Regions from separate parts of the Homo sapiens genome. Here region 1 is linked to region 2. Evidence: fine-mapped expression QTL. Tissue or cell type: whole blood. Region 2 holds a variant in brackets; the other region holds the start of a gene. Each region is shown on its reference strand, or each on the opposite one. Region 1 holds the start of ITFG1 (integrin alpha FG-GAP repeat containing 1). Region 2 holds the start of LOC124900642 (zinc finger protein 141-like).

The links. PIP is the estimated chance that this variant, and not a neighbour inherited with it, causes the effect. A credible set is the group of variants that fine-mapping cannot tell apart.
Region 1: ITFG1 starts here. The variant in region 2 is the best candidate, but not a certain one, in a credible set for the expression of ITFG1 in whole blood (TOPMed, PIP 0.56).

What each region holds. Positions count from the first base shown.
Region 1 is chr16:47,457,494-47,465,493 of GRCh38, reverse strand. ITFG1 (integrin alpha FG-GAP repeat containing 1) reads left to right here and starts at 4,431. Exons shown (of 18, transcript NM_030790.5): 1 at 4,431-4,656; 2 at 6,319-6,391. The coding sequence starts at 4,449. PHKB (phosphorylase kinase regulatory subunit beta) reads right to left here and starts at 4,163. Exons shown (of 31, transcript NM_000293.3): 1 at 4,068-4,163. The coding sequence starts at 4,143. RefSeq lists a silencer at 4,053-4,522.
Region 2 is chr4:217,959-227,127 of GRCh38, reverse strand. It overlaps LOC124900642 (zinc finger protein 141-like), which reads right to left and starts at 8,572. Exons shown (of 2, transcript XM_047416470.1): 1 at 8,350-8,572; 2 at 7,485-7,834. The coding sequence starts at 8,488. The coding sequence ends at 7,731. It also overlaps the pseudogene ZNF876P. The variant G/C (reference allele first, on the strand shown) is at 4,369.

The DNA.
Region 1 (8,000 bases), not on the chromosome of region 2:
TGCATTCTATTTCAATTTGATGATACAGTACAGGAAAAGCGTCTTGTATATACCTTCAAACACTCTATGTAATGTTAAAGCACAGTTCTTGGGTTTAGAAATTTTCAGGACTGTTGATGCATAAAAGCTATCTTTAAACATTCTATTTCCCCATTACTACTGAATGACTGTGCTAGTGCTTAAAACCACTTTCCTTCTTAGTAGAAAAGCCAAGATGGAAAACAGAGCTTGGTGCTTATAAGGAAAGAAAACAGAGTCTAGAGATATATGTCCTCCTGTTCTTTTAGTTCAAAGATAAAATCAGAAATCAATTGGCATTGTTACATGTAATATTTTGTCATTTAGCAGATGACACCTAGAAATAGAAATCATTTTAGTTCCTTAAAGAGTTTTTGTTTTCTCCTGTTTGATTCTTCCTTAAGTTATTTCTTATTTATTTTCTTTAAGATTTTCCTCCTCTATCTTGCCAGAACAGGACTTGAAATATAAACGAAAATGAATGAAGAGGGAGAAACACTTCTGAAAGGCTATGGTGAAGCCAAGGAGTTTTCACTGTGTTTGGGGGTGCTCATCTCACATTTGCCTGTTCATGAGTCCTGAGGCTTGAAATATTCTGCTTAAGAGGCATTATAGAAAAGGTAATCTCTTACCAGCAGGCTTCTCCGAGTTTTCTAGTACATAATAGGTTTTAAATGGCCCAAGTTAGGCCACAACTACAGAAAAGGGCTGTAAATGCTTCAGTTTTCATTTCAGCTATGTGGCCACCTAACTAAATGTGTGGCTTGTTCTGTAAAGTGACACTGAATACATCCAAAGGCCTGGTTGCTAATGGGAATGCATAGGTAATCATGTCTGGGTCCATGAATCACCCAGAAATTGTTTCCAAAATCCTGTGCACACGTCTGAAGAGCAATTCCATAGCTTTCATCCAGCTCTCAAAGGGGTGCATCAACACAACGGTCTAAGAGCCATTGTGCCAACATCTGTTCCAGCCCTTACACCAGGATGCCACAGGATAAAGGCCAAAGCACATGGCCTCAAAATATTCCCTGGGGCAAGTCGCTTCCTGTCTGTGAAAACGTGTATATTAATAACCTGCTTCACAGTAAGCTGATGAAGAACAGATAAGTGGGATGTTGACCAAAATTTCCTAATTTGTAGAAGTTACTTCCATTGTGGCAAGAAGACAAAAATCATTTAAGAAATATGCTATGTGCACATTTGACAATGGGAGCTCCCAGACACTAAGGAACTGCCTCTGCTTGCAAATATCGGGGCAGGCACTCCACTCTCTGTTCTTTTCACATCCCACATGAGAAGAACACAATAGGCCACATTCAAAACACAATGCAAAGTTAAACAAAACACCAGCCGGGTACTCAGGCCTGGGCCCACCAAAGAAGAAATAAAGACATAATGATATCTTATAGTGAAATCAACCTTCAGAAACAAAGGTATTTAAAATTACCAAGTGACCCTTTTGGGGTCTACAACACTTACCAGACCTTAAGAAAGCGGAAGACGGAGAGACGACTGCATCAGGTGAGCAGGCCATTTCAAATTGTTGGCTCTAATCATAAGCGTCGCAGGCTAAGCTATAGCAATTTTAAAACTGTTTAGTAAAGGTTAGAAGCAATCAGTGTTAAATTAATTGAAAGCAGTGTGAGCAGTTATTAACATGATGCAGTATGCAACAAAGGCAGTAACTGAGGATCATTATAATTTTATTTTCTCTTTTATGACTTGAAAATGTGATTTTCTTTGCTTTGATAAATTACACTTGCTCATATGGATGAGATAGAAACTATATAATATCCACTTATTAGACATTACATAAAAGTAGTATCCTCTGTTGTGCAGTGAAGTAATTATGCTACTATGTAACAATGCTCAGAACTCTGTGGGGAGGACTCTATACTGGAGTCAGGTTAGTCAAGTGTTTAACAAAGCTCCATTTATATATTCTTCTAAAAGTAACAAACAGAATCAAGTTGATTGCTTTTAATGATACAGGAAGTTATTAACTCGAGTTATTAACTTTATCCTCTGTACTTCATATACTTACAAGAATCTGAAACCTCAAATTTAACTATTAATTTGGAGGAATAACTTCAAGTGGTATCTCTTTACTACTATGATGTAAACATACAGGAACATTCAACATTGATACTATGCACTTTGCACATAAAAGTGGATTTAAATAACTGCACTCAACAACAGTTAACACTAGAATTTTTTTTCTCAGCTAAGAAAAGAGAATTAAGGTTTTCAAAGCTTACTGTTATGACATGCATTTCAGAGGAAACAAAGACTGACGAAGAAAATCAACTCTATGAGCTTATGAAAGTTAAAGAGAAATGTTGCAAAAATATATGTTGGGGGCAGTACTCAGGTCCCTGTAAGAAAACTCCAGTTATTCTCTTTGTTCAGACATAACCAATCCAATAACACTTTTTATATCCAGATAGCCACATCGTTAGTAGCCAACTCAGTATTTCTATATCACACAAAAACAATTTAAGAAAAAGTGTGAAACAAATACATGTGACTATTCCAAGTCACTTTATTGATTCTTAGTAGTACTAAGGACTACTTTTTGAAAAAATTATCTCATACTTCATAGATGGTAATTTTACTATAACCCTAAGTATATAAAGCTGAACTTTTTGTAAGGTATAAAAAAACAGAGTGTTCGGTGTATGATTTCTGAAATTAGATTTTCAGAAATTAGATTTACTTTCTCCAAAAAAAAAAAAAAAAAAGTCAGTGTGCACAACAGACAACTAAGAACTTCATAAATAGGAAAAGCCCAAAACGTAAGGAGAACATATTAGGTGAGAAAATAATTTTTTTTTTTTTTGAGACGGAGTCTCACTCTGTCGCCCACGCTGGAGTGCAGTGGTGCGACCTCCACTCACTGCAGCCTCCGCCTCCCAGGTTCAAGCAATTCTTCTGCCTCAGACTCCCGAGTAGCTGGGGTTACAGGCGCCCGCCACCACGCCCAGGTAATTTTTGTATTTTTAGTAGAGATGGGGTTTTACCAGGTTGGCCAGGCTGGTCTCGAACTCCTGACCTCAGGTGATCCGCCCGCCTCGGCCTCCCAAAGTGCTGGGATTACAGGCGTGAGCCACCGCGCCCGTCCGAAAATAATTTCTTAATATCAATGCAAGTGCAAAGTTAATTTTCCTAGCTAACACCTTTCACACCCACCCCCAATAATGACACTTCATCAATTCTTTAAAAGGGAAGCTCCTTAGCTGAAAACCTGCATTCCGCCTTTCACCTTTCCTGTTTAAGTGCATGCCTTTTGTTCAAGATTATATCCAGCCAACCAGGAATACAGGAAGTTTTAATAACGCCACAAGTCATGACGTTGCAATTTGAACAAGTCAGTTCGGGACACTTGGAACTGTTAAAACTGCCTGCAAGGCACCTTCTGACCTCTATGCTTTCGGGTTTGGAAACCACACAACCTGGGGCCACTTAAGAAGCCCTTTTCTTTCTGGGCCCTAACTATACTCTTCAATATCTGAGGCCCAGTCTCCTTCAGTTTCTGCTAGATAGATGACAGGTCTACTGCTTAGAACCTGTGGGGAATGTAAAAGGGATATAAGACATAAAGCAAGGAGCCCAGACGCCGGCTTTCTGCAGCCAGATCGTAGTTACATCTGACTTGGTCTGATTAAGCTATCTGACTTTTGCAGAGAACATTCACAGGAAAGACACATTCACAGGGAAGACACATTCCCTTTCCCAGGAATGTGCCGCCGCCCGATTTTTAAGTTAGAAGACTCTAAGGGAAGTCCGGACCGCTGCCTACTTTCCGAGTGGGGCTCACAAGCGGAATAGAGTCGGGGGCACACGCAGAGTGGAGCTGGCTCTGCCACCTAATTTTTAGAGGTGGAGGAAGATATTAGAAACAAGGCCAGGGCCGCCACCTGCTTTCTAAGGAGGAACTCGGGGCACAGGTTCATTCCCAGGGCCCCCACCTGCCTCCCGCCAAGGCGCTTGAGGCGAAGCACCACCCAAGGTACTCGGGTGGGGGGCGGCGCCCCAGCCAGCCAAACCTGAGCGCTTGGTCCGAGCTCTTCGCTCCAAGACCTTCCAGCTCACTTCTGCCGTGAGTCCCGCCGCCCCCGCCATCGCGCTCCGGTCGCCGCCTTGGCCACCGCCCCCGGGGCCGCCTGTCAGCAATGCCGGGCCACGCCCCCCGCACGACACTGTCGGGAGGCGCGCCTGCCGGAAGTGAGCGTGAGGGCGGCTTTCACCCTAGCTCCACTGCTTTTTTAGCGTCGGAAGGGCAGCCCTAGTGGGAGAGAGAAAAAGGAGCCGGCAGCGGCTCTTACGCGTCCCGGGGCTGCGCGCCACTCTCTCGGCCGGTAACGCGGTGCTTTGCGGCTGTCGTCAAGCGCGGCGTTGGGCCGGCGGGCGGGGGCTGAGGGGCTGCCATGGCGGCGGCGGGCCGGCTCCCGAGCTCCTGGGCCCTCTTCTCGCCGCTCCTCGCAGGGCTTGCACTACTGGGAGTCGGGCCGGTCCCAGCGCGGGCGCTGCACAACGTCACGGCCGAGCTCTTTGGGGCCGAGGCCTGGGGCACCCTTGCGGCTTTCGGGGACCTCAACTCCGACAAGCAGACGGATCTCTTCGTGCTGCGGGAAAGTCAGTGCTTGCCGGGCCCTCCCTCTGTTCGCTGTCCGTGTGCCTCTCCCGGTGTTCCCCAAACCCATTGCCCAATGGCCGGTCCTTCTGCATTTCCTGGTCCTTCTCTCCCAGCCCTGTGGCCTTCCCTTTAGCATTCTTAACAGCTTGTCCTTTTGCACCACCCTTTCCAACCCCAGGTTCTGACCCAGCTACCCTACAGTTTGACCTACCCTCAAAAGCCCTGACAGCACCTCAGTTTTGTTCCTAAGAAGTCTGCGGCCCTCACCCAGTCACCTTACCCCCTCCTCCCCATGGAATCACCTGTTTTCCAAAGTGCTTCCTGATTCCTAGGAATCTTTGTAGCTTGCCTCAACGTTCGCTCCCAAGGCCCACTCATTCCTTTCTATTTTGCTTCAGTCTTCCTTCCCCGTTGATGAACATGAAAAGGTGCAACCTGACAATCTCTTCTCATAGGGGGCTTCTTCTTGCCTCCCCACCTACCTAATTCGCCCACCCCTTTCTTTGTCAAGGCCACAACTTTCTATGAAGCGAATGTACCCTTCCAAGGGCCTAAACACTAAACAGCTCACACAAGCATTTTGCAGGGACCACTGATAAACCCAATGCCTCCTTGGGAAAGCAGTCTCAAACTACAGAAATTTCTCTCTTGAGCTGCCTGTTCTTTCGTGTACTCCTTCCTCATCTTGGTCATCACCTTAGTGTTCCAAATGTCTACTTTCTTTGCTAACTTGTTCTTGGAAATTCTTTGCTTTGACAATCGTTAAACTAACTTTTTTGTAAATCTTGATGCTGACAGTGGGCATTAGGGGGTCTTAGGGTTCTTGAGTACCTACAGAAGCAGGTGCTGCTTAAAGATCAATGCTGTGAAGGAAGGAAGGAAGAGCTACTCAGAGCTTGCCTGACAGGATCCTGAACCAGACTTCTTGGAGCCCTTGCGGGGATGCAGGAACCTCTTACAAACCCTGAATATTTTCCCAATCTTTTTGACTCCTCATTTTGCAGTGTACTGCCAAACCTGTTGCTGCTGTGTCCAAACTGGATACAGAGAGTAGCCTTGACTTTAAAGATGGCCTGTGTTTGATTAAACAATTCCAAAAGTCTGTCTCAATGAGTGCTAATTGAGCTCCAAGAATGTGTCACCCTCTGGAGGATGGCCCCATAGGAGGAGGGTCTTGGAGGATTCAGCATTTTGTGCTCACATGCTTAATTATGTCTTTGTCAGATATCTACAATGGGAGTCCCTGCATCCTTGGTGTGATGCATCTGTGTAATGAACCAAACAGCCTTACAAGGGACAGCATTGCTAGATTCGGGGAAGACAAGTCTTGACATGTAGTATAGTTATAAGGCATCTTTATATGGTTCTTTTAAGTCAACCAATCTGACTCCTCGCAGAATCCACTGGCTTCAGTTTCTCTTGATCAGCTGCTTTTTCCCATGTTCATCCTTTCTATTTCTCTGCTACTTTGAACATTGAACTTGTGATATAATGTTAGGCATCTCCATTGGACTAGTGGGACTATGCTTGAGAGGGCAGATGAACTGGAGTAGAATAAAAGTTTTCTTGTTGAGAACAGTGCCCAGAAACCTTCTTGTAACCACTGATTAGATATCTTATCAACAAACATTTTTCTAATATCATATATTTGTTTTCTTTAGGAAATGACTTAATCGTCTTTTTGGCAGACCAGAATGCACCCTATTTTAAACCCAAAGTAAAGGTATCTTTCAAGTAAGTACAAATATGATTATTTTGATAAAACTTTAGTCATTAATATAATAATGGATATGCAGTAGCTGATTGGTTGTCTTTAAAGTCAGCCTTAGTGTTGGGATGCAAAACCACTGTTTGTGAGGTATGAGTAGCAAGTGATTTTTTGGAAAAATAGTGAAAATACCAAAGTTTAAAAATGACTTTAAAGAAATAAATTTGAGTGGATCCAGGTTTGTTTCTATATAAACACCCTTTATTTCCTTGCAATCTCGTATCCCTCGTATCCCTTCTTGAATGTGTCTCGTTCTGTGCCTCATCTTGAGGCAGCAGTCACTCACAGTAGTCTCATTGTATTAGCCATGTGTTGTGTTTTGTGGAAGAGGGGCCTATTTTGCAGTGGGGAAAAAGTCAGTGTTCTAATTTTTTTGTTTAATTGACTGATGGTGAGTTTTTAAGGTTGACTTGGAAGGAATTCAAGTTTAATTATCTGAATTTTTAAAATGTTCAAGTAATAGTTATTTTTCTTTTCTGTGGTTGGCATTGCATGAAACAATGACCACTCCCACACCTCTACCTCCATGATAGTGACCCAACACAGTTTTGAAACTACATTCATTTGAAGCAAGCATTCGTGGCTGTCTGAATTCAAGCAAGAAGAGATGGGTCAGTGCAGGCCAAAGGGGCAGCTTCCAGAGTCATGGAACTTGAGCTTGACCTTAGTATAAATAAAAAGTTAGGTGAAGACGTTCAACTTGGAAGTTCAATTTTGGGGACAGAGCATTTATAAGAGATAAAAGTAAGAACAGCATGTTATGAAGAGGAGGTAGAAAGATCTGCCTGACAAAAGTGGAAGGTACACTTCGGGGAGTTAAGGACTAAGAACATGAGATAAGAAGGGCAGACTGGGAGCCTTCAGATACAAAAAAGAGTTTGAATGCTGTCCCATTAGAAGAGGGGAATCATCAGGTCCTTGTGCAAAGGAGAGATGATGAAAACAGTATTTTAAATTGATTTACTTGTAAACTATATGCAGAATGAATTGGTTTGTAGAAGATTAAAGACTACTTAGGAAGCTGTATTTAAAAAGTCCCTGTGTGGGCTGATTAGTTCTCAGACTCTACAGTATTTTGAGTAAACTCAAACTCATGTTAAAAAGAAAAATGGCCTTGAACTAGAACTTTGAGGGGAAAGTTATAAATGGATAAACAGGAACTTATTTCCCTTGAGAAGTGTTTTTGGGTAGTGAATGTCAGCATGCTTGGAGTGGGGAAGAAACTGAAGTTGAGTGTATATGAGAAGTGAACTAACTGCATAGAGGTGATTTTTTTTTTATTAGAAATTAAGGAAATTTAAAAGATGTAAATGGCATGTGTTCTGATAAGTTAAAACAAATATCCCAATTAATTTTTTTATTAATGCAATGCACTTTCAAAATTTAGAAACTCTTGTTTGTGTTATAATTTAAAATATTTTTCAAAGTAAAAATAACTATTCTTCACCCTTATTCTCCCCCACACCCCTGTTTCTCTCTCAGATGCAACCACTTTTAAAACCTGTAGCTGATTCTTCTAGTGTTTATTACCATATTTTAAAATAAAATTTTACACTAATTTTCTTGAATTATCAT
Region 2 (9,169 bases):
CCTCAGCCTCCCAAGTAGCTGGGATTACAGGTGCCTGCAACCACACCCGGCTAATTTTTGTATTTTAAGTAGAGACAGGGTTTCACCACGTTGGCCAGGCTGGTCTCAAACTCTTGACCTCAGGTGATCTGCCCACCCAGGCCTCCTAAAGTGCTGGGATTACAGGCATGAGCCACCGTGCCCGGCCTAAGGATGCATTTTTGAGACTTTATTTATGTGCAAGAAGCTAGGCACAAAAAGATAAATACTATATAATTCCACTTATGTAAGGTACCTAAAGTAGTTAAACTGCTAGAAACAGAAAGTAGACTAAACTGTGTCAGGGCTAAGTGGAGAAGAAAATGAGTAGTTGTTGTTTCACAGACAACCTGTTAGAACACAAAATAACTCTTACGTTTTAAAACTTTAAGACCTAGATACATGTGCAGGTTTGTTATATAGGTAAACTTGTGTCATGAAGGTTTGTTGTACACATTATTTTGTCATCAAATTATTAAGCCTGGTACGCATTAAAGATTGAATTACACAATGCATCCTTTCATACCACATGGAATCAAACTAGAAATCAAAAGCAGAAGCAAAATTGCCAAATCCAAAAATATGTGAAACTTAACAGACTCTTGAACATACTCTTCTTTGTCAGAAGATTTAATATTTTTAAATGACAATACTACCCACAGTGATATTCAAATTCAATGTAATCCTGATGAAAATCCAAATGATACTTTTTAAAGAAATCTTTTTTAAAATTCTTACATTTACATGGAACATCAAAGGACCACTGTTAGCCTGAACATTCTTAGAAAACAAGAACAAAGTTAGAGGCACAACGCTTCCTTTGTTTAGAACAGATTACAAAGCTACATAAATAAAAACAGTGTGGTACTTGAAAGAAGACAAATAGTGATGGAACAGAACCCAGAACTTAAAGCCAAACCATGTTTGTGTATATGCTCAAATGATCTTCAACAAGGTTGCTGTGACCGCACAACAAGAAAAAGACAGTCTCTTCAATAAATGGTGTTGGAAAACTCTGTAACTACATGGGAAAAACTGAGGTTGGGTCCTACCCGCAAACCATATACAAAAGCTGTCTTGAATGAGTTAAATATTTGAATGTCGGAAATATACCTATACAATCTCTAGAAGAAAATACAGTAAGATTATGACCTTGGTCTCAGCAATGTTTCCTTGCATACAACATCAAATATCTGAGCAACAAATTAAAAAACTCAGAAAAATGGGACTACATTAAATTTATCTTTGCATATTAAAATAAACATTTCGTAAGAGTCCCACCTAAGAAAACAAATTAAAAAGCATATATTTGACAGAAGCTAACATCCAGAATAAACAACTTCAAGAAAATCAACAAATAGTAAGTAACATCATTAACAAATGAACAAGATAAAAATGGTTCTCCAAAGAGGAAATGCACACAGCAAACAATTATTGAAAAATATTTCCAATCTTTAGCAAAATGTAAAGCAAAACCACAATGAGGTATTATTGTGCATTAATTAGTATGGCCAATATCAAGCAAACAATGACAAATGTTGTCATTTGTCATGGAGGAATTGAAACCCTTGTGTACTGTTGGTGGAAATAAACATGATACAACCATCTGAAAAATGTATAAAGGTTCCTCCAGAAATTAAAAATGAAATTATTATATGACCCAGTAATCCCACTCCTTTTTTTTTTTTTTTTGAGACAGAGACTTGCACTGTTGCCCAGGCTGGAGTGCAGTGGCATGATCTCAGCTCACTGCAACCTTCGCCTCCTGGGTTCAAGTGATTCTTGTGGCTCAGCCTCCCAAGTAGCTGGGATTACAGGTGCACACCACCACACCTGGCTAATTTTTGTATTTTTAGTAGAGACAGGGTTTCACCATGTTGGCCAGGCTGGTCTTGAACTCCTGACATTAAGTGATCCACCTGCCTTGGCCTCCCAAAGTGCTGGGATTACAGGGGTGAGCCATGGTGCCCAGCCCCACTTCTGAGCATCTATTCAAAATATGCAAAGTATACCTGAAAGAAATATTTGCATATCCATGTTTACTGCAGCAATATTCACTGTATTAGTTTATTCCTGCATTGCTATAAAGAAATGCCTGAGCCTGGGTAATTTATTTTAAAAAGGAAGTTTCACTGGGTCATGGTTCTGCAGCCTGTACAGAAAGTGCAGCAGCTTCTGCTTCTTGGGAGACCTCAAAAAGCTTCCAATCATAGCAGAAAGCAAAGGGACGGTGAGTCATCTTACATGGTGGGAGCAGGAGTTAGAGAGATTGAGAGAAGAGGTGCCACATACTTTTGAAAAATGAGATCTCAGAACTCACTCACTATGTCAAAGACAGTACCAAAGGGGCTAAGCTAAACCATTCGTGAGAAGCCAACCCTATGACCCAACCACCTCCCACCAGGCCCCACTTCCAACATTAGGGATGGCAATTTGACATGAGATTTGAATGAAAATGCAGATCCAAACCATATCATTTACAAAAGCCAAAAACTGAAAAAACTCAAACATTCTTCAATGGATGAATGATTTAAAAAGATGTGGTTTATACATACAATGAAATATTCTTTAGCCCTCAATGAAAATATCTTGTGAGATGCTACAATAAGAATAAATCTTAAAGCCATTATTTAAAGTGAAATAAGACACCGACAAAGTGACAGTGTATGATTCCACTTTTATACAATATTTTGAGTAGTAAACTAGGAAACAGAAGTAGAAACATGCTTGCCTATGGTTAGGGTTGTGAAACCTCAGTGGAGCCAGAGATCAAGGAGGGTTATTTAGAAAAAGCAGGCCCTCACCCAGGTGGCTAACTCAAGGGCCCACAGACATGGCTACAGACAAGGAAATGGCACATTGAGCCTGGTGTTACTGAAGATTATGAAGCAGTTCTGCAACCTTTCTCAAACTCCTCTCAGCTACAGTCCACAAGTGGTCCTTCTCATTAAGAGACCTGCAGGGAGACACACCCAGCCATAACCCTGGAGGCAGGCTTGTATATCTTGGCCTCAGCTGTGCTCCCTGAAGCAGCCCTGTGACTCAGTTCTAGCCCTCACAGTCACTGTCTGTGGCCAGTTGTACACACTCAGGGACCCACATAGAGACTTGTGAAAACTGTTCCCAGGTAGTCAGTAGAAGCCAAACCCATTCATACACCTGATATTTGGCCCATCATATGCAGACAAACTTCAAACCCTACCCTGCTGCCTGCCATATAATGTCCTCAAGGATATTTAATGTTTCCATGGCCCAGAAAGAATCCATGACTGTCCAAATATCTGGTAACACAACGATCAAAGGCAGACCCCACAGCAGACCCAGCAGCACCCTTGTGACCCAGCTACAATCCTTCTTCTCTGCAACCCCAGAGGTAATCTCATCAGCCTGTGGACCAAACAAATGGGAGATCTTTACCTGTCAAAAATAGTTTATAGAAACTGTAATCATTGTTAGATCCTTCAAATGTACAGACACAGGGCTGCTTCAGAGACTACAGCTGAGGCCAAGATATGCAGGCCTGTCTGCAGGGCCACAGCTTCTATCTTAACATGTTACTGGAAGTTTCTTTCAGAACAATTGGGCGAGGAAAAGGGCAACAAAGCTCTACAGCTTGGAAAAGAAGTAAAAATGTTACTGTTTGTAGATAATATGATCATGCATATATATATAAAACCCTAGAGTAAAACAAGAAAAATTGTTTGAACTAATAAATGCATTCATTAAAGTATCAGGATACATAATCAACATACAAATACTTGTGGGTTTTTTTTTTTTTTTTTGAGACATGGTCTCACTGTGTTGCCCAGACTCATCTCAAACTCCTGTCCTCAAGTCATCCACCTGCCTTGGACTCTGAAAGTGTAGGGATTACAGAAATGAGACACTGCACCTGGCCCAACATACAAATATTTGTTGCATTTCCATACAGTAGCAACAAACTTTCCAAAAAAAGAAACAATTTCTATTTGCAATAGTATAAAAATAAGAAATTTAATTAAAATAAATTTAACCAATGAAGTAAAAAAATTATACATTAAATACAATAAGATTGATGACAAATTGAAGTAGACACAAATAAAGGAAATATATTCCATTAGGATAACTAACACTGTCAAAGTATCATATTATCCAAAATGATCTCTAGATTCGATGTGATCCCTATCAAAGTTTTAGGGGCATTTTTCACAGTAATAGAAAACACAATTGTAAAATTTAAGTGTAAGCTTAAAGAACTTTAAATAACCTGAGCAATCTTGAGAAAGAACAATGCTGGGGCATCATACTCTTTAATTTCAAATTTTATTTAAAGGTTATAGTAATCAAGAGTATTGTATGTGCATAAAAACA[G/C]ATACAAAAGCCAATGGAACAGAATAGGGAGCCCAGAAACAAAACCAGAATACAAGGTAAACTAATCTTTGAAAAGGCCACCAAGAATATACAATGCAGAAAATACAGTCTTGTTGATACATGGTACCAGAAAAACTGGGTATCCACAAGTGAAAGAATAAAAGTAGAATATTTTCTTATACCATACCCCGAAATTAACTCAAAATGAAACACTTAAATGTAAGACATAAAACCTTAAAACTCCTCAAGAAAACATATATAAAAAAAAAAACCTTGTTAATATTGGTCTTGGCAATAGCTTTTTTGATATGACATCAAAAGCACAGCAACAAAAAATACAAACAAATGGGACTGCATCAAATTGAACAGCTTACACACAGCAAAGAAAAAAAATTTTTTAAACCCTACAACATAGGAAATTATTTGCAAGCCATATATCTAATAAGAAGTTCATATCCAAAATGTATAAGACACTTCTGCAATTCAAAGCAAAACAATAATAATAACCCATTCAAAAATAGACAAACCATACATATAAGGGAAATCGGTATGCTGTTGGTGAGATGTAAATAAATAAAGTCGTCATAAAAAACAGTAAAAAATAAAAATGGAAATATCATACAACCCAGCAATACCACTTCTGGGCATCCTACCAAAGGAAATAAAATTTGTACCTTGAAGAAAGATCTTCAGCCCTATGTTCACTGTAGTATTGTTTACAATAGCCAAAATATAGTATGTGTGTGTCTATATACAGACAGTAGAATACTATTCCGCCAGAAGAGAAGGAAATGTAGCCATTTACAACATGGATAGACCTGGAGGACGTTATGCTAAATGAAATAAGCCAAACACAGAAAGACAAAGAAACTCCTTGTTTTAAGTTAGATGAGAAATCTAAAAAAGTACACTCATAGAAGCAGAGTATAAAATGGTGGTTGCTAGTGCCTGAGGGTAGAAATATGAGGAGATGTTCAAAGAGTACAAATTTTTAGTTATAAGTTGAGTAAGTCTGAGAAATCTAATGTAAATTAGCATTAGATTAGCCAAATAGCATTGTGTTTATAGTTAGTAATACTGTAATGTATGCTTACAATTTGCTACTACAGTAGATCTTAAGTGTTCTTACTCCAAAAAAAATTGAGGTACTAGATGTGCTCATCAACTTGACTGTATTTTGTTTCACAGTGTACATGCGTATCAAATCATTACATTGTATACATTAAATATATAGTTATACCATTTTTATTTATCAGAAAAATCCATGTCACACAAACACAGATGTACAGTAAGTACTCAATGTTCAAAATAGGTTCTTGAAAACTGCGTCTTTAAATAAAACAATGTCGGTATATGACATTCAAACATAACCTTGTTTCTATCAATTCAACTATAGTAATTCTGCCTCTGGGTTTAAGCGATTCTCCTGCCTCAGCCTCCTGAGTAGCTGGGATTACAGGTGCATGCCACCACACCCGGCTAATTTTTTGTATCTTTAGTACAGATGGGGTTTCACCATGTTGGCCACGCTGGTCTCAAACTCCTAACCTCATGATCCACCCACCTCGGTCTCCCAAAGTTCTGGGATTACAGGTGTGAGCCACCGTGCTGAGCCAAAATTAGTTTTCTTAAACAATATATTGCTTCACTTACAGTTTCCATGAAACTATCAACAATGTTAAGTGAGAATTTACAATACACATATATAACTTATATGGGTGGGTGTATGTGTGAGACCCACATTTTTATATAGATATCAATAGATCTCAATGATGAAACCCCAGTAGGCTTCTTTTTTTTTTTTTTTTTTTTTTTTTGAGACGGAGTCTCACTCTGTTGCCCAGGCTGGAGTGCAATGGCGCCATCTCGGCTCACTGCAACCTCGGCCTCCCGGGTTCAGCGATTCTCCCACCTCAGCCTCCCGAGTAGCTGGGATTACAGGTGCCTGCCACCACGCCCAGCTAATTTTTGCAATTTTAGTAGAGATGGGGTTTTGCCATGTTGGCCAGGCTGGTCTTGAACTCCTGACCTCAGGTGATCCACCCACTTCAGCCTCCCAAAGTGCTGGGATTACAGGCGTGAGCGACTGCGCCTGGCCCCCAGTAGGCTTCTTACTAAAAGTATAAGATAATAGTTATTAAGAAATAATAATATACACTTAGCAGTGTTCTAAGCTAGTTAATGACAGTGCATTTAAGAAATCTTGAAGGTGAGTAGATACTTTAATCAAGTGGTGCCCAATGCTATGAATGTAAGAACATTTCACTTATCTGTTGCAGTAGCTATCATAAAAATTATTTATGAAATTTTTTTTAAAGTTCATCAGTTATCATTAGTGTTAGTGTATTTTATGTGTGGCCCAAGATAATTCTGCTTCCAATGTGGCCCAGGGAAGCCAAAAGGTTGGAAAACCATGCTTTAAACTATATTATAATTTGAAAATTTACACATCTAGAGTTTAAATTACAAATCTCAGTTTATACTAAATCAATAACATTTTGAAGTACAATCAACAATACATTTTTCATATTTAGGAAAATGCTTATCATTCTTATAAAATTGCTAAGAAAGAATTTTTGTAGAATTACATTTGCAACAGGATTAAAAATCACTAAGCAGAAAAGGTGCAACATCTGTCCCTAGTGTTCCTGGGATTTCTGAACCAAATTCCAATATGTCCACTACTTGCCTTACATATTTAGGCATGATACAAAATCAATATTTGAAAAAAATACGTTAACATAGAGCTCCTCAATAACACAATTATTCCTATATTTCCAAAAGCAATGGAACAGCAGTGAGATCATGCAGCCCCTTATAAGTGATAAAGTAGACATTGGCTATCCCTGTAAACTTGAAGGGAGATCTCTAAAGAAAAAAGAGGGCTGGGTGTAGTGGCTCATGCCTGTAATCCCTGCATTTTGGGAGGCCGAGGCAGGTGGATCACCTAAAGTCAGGAGTTTGAGACCAGCCTGGCCAACATGGCAAAACCCTGTCTCTACTAAAAATACAAAAATTAGCTAGGTGTATTGGCAGATGCCTGTAATCCCAGTCACCCAGGAGGCTGAGGCAGGAGAATTGCTGGAACCTGGGAGGCACAGGCTGCAGTGAGCTGAGATCACACCACTGTACTCCAGTCTGGGTGACAGAGCAAGACTCCATCTCAAAAAAAAGAAAAAAGAGAATTTTTAGAAGATTTAACAGCATGGGGCTGAAGATGCCCCTATTTGTGAACATGAGAAAAAATGCAGCCTTTTCAGAAATTATTTGCATTGAAGAAGTGCTTTCCAAAGTACATTTTAAGGCCTGACTTCCTTCATCACCTTTGGTCCCCTTGCCTGTGTCCTCTCCTTCATTCACTCTCACCTACCTGGGGCTTTGGCTACTGTCTCATGTGTCTTCCCATTAAAGGGCTCTTTTCTTTGCTCCAAACAGGTGATCAGGTCTGAGTTAAAGAGAGCAACACCTGTTTTATTTAAAAAATAAGATAAAATAACGTGACTACTGCTGAAGATTCTCCAATTACCAACCTAGTACTATGCTAAGAAGAAAAGAGAAATTATGGAAGATTCTAAAAAATTAATCCAAAAATTGTTTCCTGATAGGCTCTTTAGAATATTTAAGTGTTTCAAATCTGTGGGTTCTAAGTTCCACTACCCAGTACTACTGAATAAAAAAAATTGGTAAATTGGTACAAATTGGATTTTAAGATGTGGAAAACGATATTTTACAACACTGAATTTATAAAATTACCACTAATCTAGAGTGAAGGACAAAAATTCCCTCAATAAAAGAGAAGGTTTAGGTAAAGATGAAACATCTTAAAGATTTTTTTTACACCAGCAGACTCCCAATTTTTTCATGAAGAAACAAGGTGAAATTAATTCACGCAAAGCAGAAGCTCCCAAGAAACATTCTACAAAGGAAAAAAAATAAAACTCTGAGGGAATATTAGGAATTACACATGAAAGTTATCCTCACCCAGGGAGACCAGGTTTCTATAGTTCTCCAACATCACATCTCTATATACATTCTGCTGGGCAGGATCCAGACATTTCCACTCTTCTGGGGAGAATTCTATGGCCACATCCCTGAATGTTAAGAGTTCCTGAAAACACATATTTATCAAGTGACAGAGTTCTTTTTTTTGAGACAGAGTCTTGCTCTGTCACCCAGGCTGGAGTGCAGTGGTGCCATCTCAGCTCACTGCAAGCTCTGCCTCTCAGGTTCATGCCATTCTCCTGCCTCTGCCTCCCAAGTAGCTGGGACTACAGTTGCCTGCCACCATGCCTGGCTAATTTTTTTTTTTTTTTGTATTTTTAGTAGAGATGGGGTTTCACTGTGTTAGCCAGAATGGTCTCGATCTCCTGACCTCGTGATCCATCCTCCTCAGCCTCCCAAAGTGCTGGGATTACAGGCATGAGCCACCACACCCGGCCAGTGACAGAGTTCTTAAATTGACTACAGGAGAAATGAGTTAAGGGAGCTAGTTCTGACTGTAATTATCTGATAAAATAACTTTCAACACAGTCATGTTCTCTAAAGTATTCTATAACTCTTAGGAAAAATGATGGCACGCGAGCAATTACTGTTGCTGCAATGGAAATATGGGCTACACTGACCTGCTGCTACCAAAACCAAGCAGAGTAGACCCTGTGACTTCCTGGAACAAAGGGTAAACTCACCACTCATTAAAGTATCTGGAAGCCCTCATGCTTGACCCTGCCCTCACTGTAGAATCATGTTTTAGTTTAAAAAACAGGGATGTTTCCACCCAGAACAATAGACAGGATCTGTGGGG